Linked DNA regions of Homo sapiens. The protein of the gene in region 1 purifies or fractionates together with the protein of each later gene. This does not show direct contact. Each region holds a gene or a part of one and is shown on either strand. Other genes may lie near its edges. The genes, in order: SEMA6A and EVL.

Region 1 (3,819 bases):
GTTCATGTTTTTTTGGAGTTTGCTAATAGTAGTTTTAAAATTCAACTTTCTATCAGGAGAATACAGCATACTTTATTAACCCATGTTTCTGCCCTGTACCCGTACAGTATATCTGCTGTTGAGGATCCTGCACTTGGAGACAAGAAGACCTGAGTTCCAGACTCTCACTACCTTGGACAAGTCACTTAACTTCTCTGTGGCTGCATTATTTTAATTGAAAATTATAAATAGTAAACCTATTCTTCCTAACTTATAGGATTACTGGGAAAATAATACGAAATCATGAATGTGAATGTATTTAGTGAAATATTACACGCATTGTGGAAATTTGGGAAGTTTGATGTTAACCCCCTCTTTCCCACTCTGGACCCTGGATATAACAGAGATCCTACTTCATCTTCTAAATTATTTTTGGTAGAATATACACTGTTCATGTAGTTTTAATGTAAATCACATTATGCAACTAAATAATATGTTCAAATTCATTGAAATTGTACAGTTCACCTAGAGCATGGATAGCAACTTTATTAATTAGAACACCTACCATGTCAAGGAAACATTGCTTTCAACATTATCATTAAATCAGGCAAGGTCATAGGAGTACCATTCTGCCAGGAATTAGTTTAAAAGTAAGATAATTGTTTTTGCTCAGTTAAATTCTGAAATAGTTCAAATCAGTGTAACGATTAATATGTCAGGGTGAACCAGGACTAGTAGAAGTTTCCATCTTTGTCATAACAAGGCCGAATTCGTTAGATCTTGTGGCGTGAGGTTAATAAATGTGAAGGGACCGTTGGAGGGAAGGTAGTGGACAACTCTAGAGGCATTGCGGAGGTCATGCTTTTTTGACAGACAATGCACGTGGATTTGTTTTGCCATTTACCAACAGTGTGACTTTATGCCAGTTTCCTTTCTCCTTCAGTTTTCATTTGCAAAGTGCTAGTATGATGATAATGTTATGGTTTTGAGAAGAATAAATGTGCTAACATCTGTAAAATGCATGTCACAATGCCGGGCACACAACAAGCAGTCATTCAACATAAGGTATTATTTTTACTTGAGTAACAGTAGTTACGAAAAATGTCCTAGGAATGGATTTTGAAAAAGCAGATAGTACTTTTATTCTGGGGGGCAGGGGAAATAGTAGAAAAGGAAATGGCTACGAATCTGTAATATAAAGAGATGATGCAAAAGAAAACAACCTTTGGACTAGAAACAAACATTCATACCATAAACAGGCCATAATGTCATGGGTTTTAAGTTGAGAAGCATGTGAATACATCACTTGCAGGGAAACAGGAAACAGGGAAACTTTGGAATTTGAAATATCACACCCAAAACATGGAAGGAAAAAACCACTATATATAAAAAATAATAATAATAACAAGCAGAGCCTTATATCAAATAGGAGCCCAAGGGATAGTTTTTGAAAAATGATAGCTATCACTTATTAACATTTTAATAATAAAATGTACACTCTGCACCTACATTTAGAATCTGAAAGCAACTCATAATGACAATTTTAGGGATGAGTTGAATTCCCAAGGACCACACCTGTCTTAGGAGAGAAACTCGGCTGCTGATTGGAACCCTTGAGGAGGTTGTGGCTAGGACTTCTGCAAGAGGGTCTTCAGGTTGGGCATGCATCTGCCAGGTCACTCTTCCCTGGCCAAGCTTGAAATCAATTTGGGAGCAAAAGCAAACTACTGCCTTCCACACCAAAGGTAGGAAATAATTGGCTGACCCCAGTAGAGATAGCAGTTATTCTGCTGACAGACACACTACTACAAAACCTGAAATTTGATTCAAATGATAGTCATACAAGTTCTTATCAGTGAGAAAAATCTGACTTCTAAAAGGCACAGCAGAAGGGGAAATAAATTGATGTTATCACCACAATTCCCTGCTACCATTATGTTTTCCAGGAATGCCTCCATGGCTTAGAGTTACAGTTATTTTCAACTAGGAAATAAAATGTTCTCAAACTCTGTAAGTGGAAACAGAATGGAAAGAGTGTGAGATAAATCAGTAATTAACATGCTGCAAGGACCGAAGTTTCAGATCCTTCTTAGCAGCCAGTATGGTGACTTTTGCTTAGAAAGCATTGTTAGTAATAGATACTTCCTCATGCAGCCTTTAGACTTGAAGCTTTCTTTTAATATTCCTAGGTGCTTTCTAGGAATTTCCAACTAACCTATAATTGTCATCTGTAGAACATTAAATTCAAAGAATCCATGCCAATTAAAAAAATTTAGCAGAAGAAGCTCTAAAGTTGGTGCTGTTTACGCCTTTCTTAGCCCTTCTGCCCCTCTACGCTTCAAAGACCAGCCTTTGGCCATGATTTGATTAGAAGCATTTATAGAACAGAACAGGATCTGGCATTAAATACAATGAAAACATGCCATTGGAAAATAAACATTGTTAGAGACTACGAAGAAATAAAGATTGTATTAATTATGTTTTAATGTTCTATGAGGGTTTTACAGACAAGCTGTGATAGATCCATTCTTCTTTCCCTGTTCCTATTCCTGATTCGTTTTTTAAAGAAAAGTATTCAGTCTTTTCATTAATATTGCAGCGACTTCAGCACTTCCCCGCCCCTCCCCCAGACTCCTACTGTCCTTGAATGAGGAAACTGAGAGAATACTGATTGAGCTGGTGAATGGAAACGTTCCTTTCCTGAAAATGGAATGCTTTACAAAAAATTGCATTCCACAAAAAAACACTCAAAACAATTCAACAACTGTCCCTCCTCCTTTCTACCCAGAGAGCCACTTGATTTCATTCACATATTTTGGTTTTTCAATGTATTTGTTCTTAGGCCTAAAATACCCAGGTGGAAAACCATTCTATTAAGCCTTTCACTATTTTAAAAACATGAGCATCTGAGTTTCTAAGAACATTCTCATTCCTGCATAGTGAGCGATAAATAGAAACCAAATTGTTTGTAGCATTCTAAACTCAAGTATATTGGCAGAATGGCAGTGGAGTTGATTTTTATAAGAATACTTGTTAATGGTTTTCGAGACGGATTCTGTGCTAATTCTTCTTGTATCATGAATGATGGCCCTAGCTAGACACTGTCGCTGGGATCTTCATCTGTTAATCATGGAGGCTGCTTTCTTATTCGGTTGCCATAGTTTCAGTGCCTCACATAGTGTTGGGGTGTCTTGGGAAAGGTTTGAGATATACTAGGGCTTGCAAGCCTTGCAGTTATTTTGACAGTTGTGCTCTGAAAGACTGAAAACCGCTTCTCGTATAATTCAGTGTTGGATTAAAAGAGGCAACTTCTGAGAGTGTCTCCCTGGACCTTGTTATGTGCACATCCAGCTGGTATTTAATCCAGGATTTGCCTCTTGCTCAGTCTTGCTGGCAAAAAAAATAAATAAATAAAAATACAGTACAGAGGCTGATGTCACTTTCATATTTCAACAAGAAAGCAAAGGGACGCAAACTCTTCATTAAGACTATTCACAAATGTGGAGGTAAATGAGGCCATTCATGACTTTGCTTAAAATTTCTGCTCCATAATTTGGCTTTGGCTTTGCAGATTACTAAATAAATAAAATGACATCATGATTGCTGTGTGCCGTGTGTTATTTTGGCAATGGAAACATGTAGAGCTTTACTTCAGGTTTAACCTTTCCTTTTTTACACTTGACACTCATTGCTAAGGAGCTAGAGACCATTTTACTGTATTTTGCAACAAAAGGCTCATACATTTTGGACTGTAGGTCTACTGCTTTGTCAACTCGTGAATAGTATATGAACATTTTTCAATTATTTAATAATTTCAATATTTTGCTATTTTTTTTTAGG
Region 2 (3,819 bases), on another chromosome or scaffold:
GATGCCAGATGCCGGTGGGAGAGTCAAGGCCCTCCCAAGAACAAACATGCTTTGCATAGCTCAGCAGGGATCAATCAGGTGCTCTCTGAAATCCACCTCAGTGATGGCTACTGGGTGGAGCCGACGATGAAAGTGCCCTTGCCAGGTTTCTTTTCATGTAGGTTGTCTCCCGCCTCTGAGGGCATGCAGTTGAGTCTCCCAACAGTGGAGGGCAGGAGGGAAATGAACGTGGACAGAAAGCTCCTGTTCAGCAGCACTTTCACAGACACTCATCCCGCCTACACTCCCCGTGAGCAGGTGGCTTGGTCAGCGTTCTGTTTCTAGGAGATGGGACACTGGCTGCTGGGGGGTAGCTGGTGAGGTGTAAGTGATCGTGGCTAGGCCAGTTAGGAGACTCTGACAGTCCAGGAAGAGATGATAGGGGCATGCAGGAAGGTGTTGAAGGTGAAGACAAAAAAGACAGGCAGGTACCCAGATTTAGAGAACTGACCAGGCTGACAGTTATAAGAAGCTGGTGTCAGGGATGATTCCCTGGTTTCTGGGCTGAGGGACGAGGTGGGCAGACCTGTCCTGAGATGGGAGCTAAAGAAGGGGGCCCCTGCTGTAGCTGAGGAGGCTGCCAGGTAGGCCCATCACAGACAGGTGACAGCCTGGCCACGGCCCATTATCACACCTCAGACCAGCTCCATGCTTGATGGGCAGCTCATCTCAAGTTGAAAAGCCACAGAAGCGTATCTCTGGGAAACACTGAGGGTCTGCCTGCCTCTGTAGACCTGGGAGGTCAGCAGATACCACTGAGGCCAAAAAATATGGGTGAGGTTTTAGAGTACATGAAACGGGGATTCATACTGGGGAGGTGCACGAACCGACTCAAGGGCGTCACGTGGACCTATTCCAGGGCTCCTCTTCTGAGCATTTCCAGGCTCTGAGTGGCATTCTAGATTGGGGAGGGCGTGGCTGGGTTAACTGAGTTCCAAGACACAAGGGCCTTAGAGTGACACAAGAAAGTGTCCAGTGTCCCGACCTGTGGGACAGACTGCAGCCCAGAGAGATGCCTCTCTGTCCCGTGTGGCCAGGCCTTCAGTGTCCTGGGGACAGAGCGTGCCCGCCTCCCCTCCACGCCTCAGATGCTACAGCTGCTGCCAGTAGAGCTAAACAGACATAGAGGCATCTCGCCCTCTCTGCCTAGACCAGTTTTGTGTCCCAGGCCATGACCACACGGAGGGCCTGGACATTTGCCTGGGCCTGGCTCCTCACCAGACGGGGCCTAGACAAGCCGCCTCCTTCACGCCATCGTTTTCCCACACAGGTTTATCTGAGGACCGGGGTGAGTCTGGCAGGGTGGAGGCAGAAGAGTTCTGGGACAGTGAGAGAACGTGAGGAGCTGATCTGTATCTTCCCCTTCTCTGTGCCTAGGAGAAAAGCAGCCTCCCAGTCAGACAAGCCAGCCGAGAAGAAGGAAGATGAAAGCCAAATGGTGAGCAAGCAGCCCGCCCCACCCTCAGGCTCCCCACTGAGATGAGCGCATCGCCAGGGAGGCTCTCTGGTCTCAGGCGAGGCCTTTGGGACATGCGTGGGATGGGCGCTTCATCAGGTGATTCACAGGAGGGGCGGAGGGTCTCTGCGGTGCTTGTCCCTGCGCCACCCTGGCCCCAGCAGCAGGCCTGCCCTCACTGAGCACCCCCTACCAGACACTGCTCCACCCTTGGAGCTGCAGCCTGAGGCGCTGGCCGCTGCACCGCAGGGCTACCTCGCCTTCCCAGGAGCCCCGGGGAGCACAGACCAGCCAGGGTCTCGGCGGGACTGGGACTCCAGGAGTACACTGCAGAGGGGCACGTCTGCCAGAAGCCCAGAGAGGTTTTTATTTTCAAATTATTTCTGTTTCTAAAGACTCCTCTTCCAGCAGGAGCTTCAGGTGAGCTGTGGCAAAGGAGCCCTGGACCCCTGGCTCTTGTCCTTACCAGGCAGCCCAGAGCCAGCCTGGCTGCCAGAGCTCCCAACATCTGCTTCCAGTTAGGGCGGCTAATTCTCTTTTCCTCCATGTTAAGCTTTTCCTATAAAAAGACTCCTACTGACAGGGCTAAGTTTAGCCTTAACTACAAATGCCTTGAAGGTTCCACCTCAGTGCAGAATCAGAGAGGAAATAAAACTGCCAGGGACCAGAGCAGGCTTCCTGCCCTGTCCTCCCATCAGTCAGGGTCATGCTGGTGTTACCCTGAGGCTATAGCCCTCCCAGCTGATCCACGCCTCTCAGCCCCGTCCTGGGCACATATGGGTCCCTTTGCCCCACCAGCCAACTCCCATTCAGCCTGCACTTCCCTGCATCACCCTTACACCTTAAAAAACAGCCTCCCGGCCGGCTCAACACTTCACACTTGTAGTCCCAGCACTTTGGGAGGCCGAGGCAGACGGATCACCTGAGGTCAGGAGTTTGAGACCAGCCTGGCCAACATAGTGAAACGTCATCTCTACTAAAAATACAAAATTAGCGGGGCATGGTGGCGCATGCCTGTAATCCCAGCTACTCGGGAGGCTGAGGCAGGAGAATTGCTTGAACCTGGGAGGCGGAGGTTGTAGTGAGCAGAGATCGCACCATTGCACTCCAGCCTGGGCAACAAGAACGAGACTCCGTCTCAAAAACAAAACAAACAACAACAACAAAAAAACAGCCTCCCGACCCCCAGGCCTCACAAAGCTCCTCACTACTTGATCCCAGCCCCGGTCTTCTCCCGAGGCCCTCTGCACAGGCACGACTGCTTGTGGAGACTCGTTGTCTCCTGCCAGATCTTAGGCCCTTGGAGGGCGAGGCCTGGGCTTCTCACACGTCCACCATTCCCATACCTTGCACATGCTGTGGAGTTTAGCCAACTGACTTGCCATGAATTTCTGAAATTGCAGGCCACGGGATAATCACAGACATCAAAATACTGTGGCCTCGCTCCAGCCACAGCCCTGGGGATCTGAAGACATCGCTGGCCTTTCTTAGTCAGGTGCCAGTATGTTGCAGTCCCAGCCCCTGAAAACTAAAACTCTCGCTCCTGGAGCTCTAAGAAGAATGGATTTCAAAGCCCAGGGGCTTCTGGAAGAGGAACATTCTTGAAACCTTCAACCCCAAGGATAGCACTCTCCTCCTCAGACCCCCATCTTTTCTGTCTTGTTTTTCACAGGCCCCTGGCTACAGCTGGTTCTTGTTTGCCATGGTCCCTTCTCATACCCAGGACTAGCGTCTAAAGAGAGCAGGGCCTTCAGAAGATCCACACACCACACAAGTGCAGTGGGAGGGAGAGAGGCTGATGGCCGGCACTCGTTTTCTTGTTCATGCTTCCTGGTATTTCCCCAATTCTCTGCAGTGAACATGCACTAAGTTTATCATTAACAGAGAAGAAAGAAGGCTTATTTGAAAGACGAAAAGAGCCCCAAATGTGGAGTCCGGTGACTTGGGCAGGCCCTCTGCCATGGCAGAGCTGGCCCTGGGCCAATGGAGTTACTGCTCCGAGGACCAGTTCCACCACCTGAAAACCTGCACCCAGGCATGGCCGCCTCACAGACTGTGCGACTGCCAGAGGTGGGGTGCAAGTCTCTGTGCCCAGGGCCTGGGAGTGCTGCGGCCACCTCTTTCCCAGCCTAGAGTCAAAGCATAACTTCCCTTTTAAGCAGGGAGGGTTTTAAAAAAATAACATACAAGAAAAGATGATAATTTTTTAGTGACTCTGATGTCACCCTGTATCGCTTTCATCGTGGCCCCCACATGTGTGTGTTGATTGACATAATCTGTTATTCAGCTGTCTTTAAAATGAGGAGGCCTGAGAACCTCATCCC

The links.
Region 2: the proteins of SEMA6A (region 1) and EVL purify together in Homo sapiens (affinity purification with western blotting, with the first as the bait; one study listed by BioGRID). This does not show direct contact.

The regions. Positions count from the first base shown.
Region 1 is NC_000005.10:116,564,706-116,568,524, reverse strand, and holds part of SEMA6A (semaphorin-6A isoform 2 precursor), read left to right. Parts: intron 1-3,819. UniProt on the Homo sapiens protein: Cell surface receptor for PLXNA2 that plays an important role in cell-cell signaling. Required for normal granule cell migration in the developing cerebellum.
Region 2 is NC_000014.9:100,131,303-100,135,121, forward strand, and holds part of EVL (ena/VASP-like protein), read left to right. Parts: exon of another isoform or gene 1-1,416; coding exon 1,417-1,477; intron 1,478-1,744; coding exon of another isoform or gene 1,745-1,857; intron 1,858-2,898; coding exon of another isoform or gene 2,899-2,986; exon of another isoform or gene 2,987-3,819. UniProt on the Homo sapiens protein: Ena/VASP proteins are actin-associated proteins involved in a range of processes dependent on cytoskeleton remodeling and cell polarity such as axon guidance and lamellipodial and filopodial dynamics in migrating cells.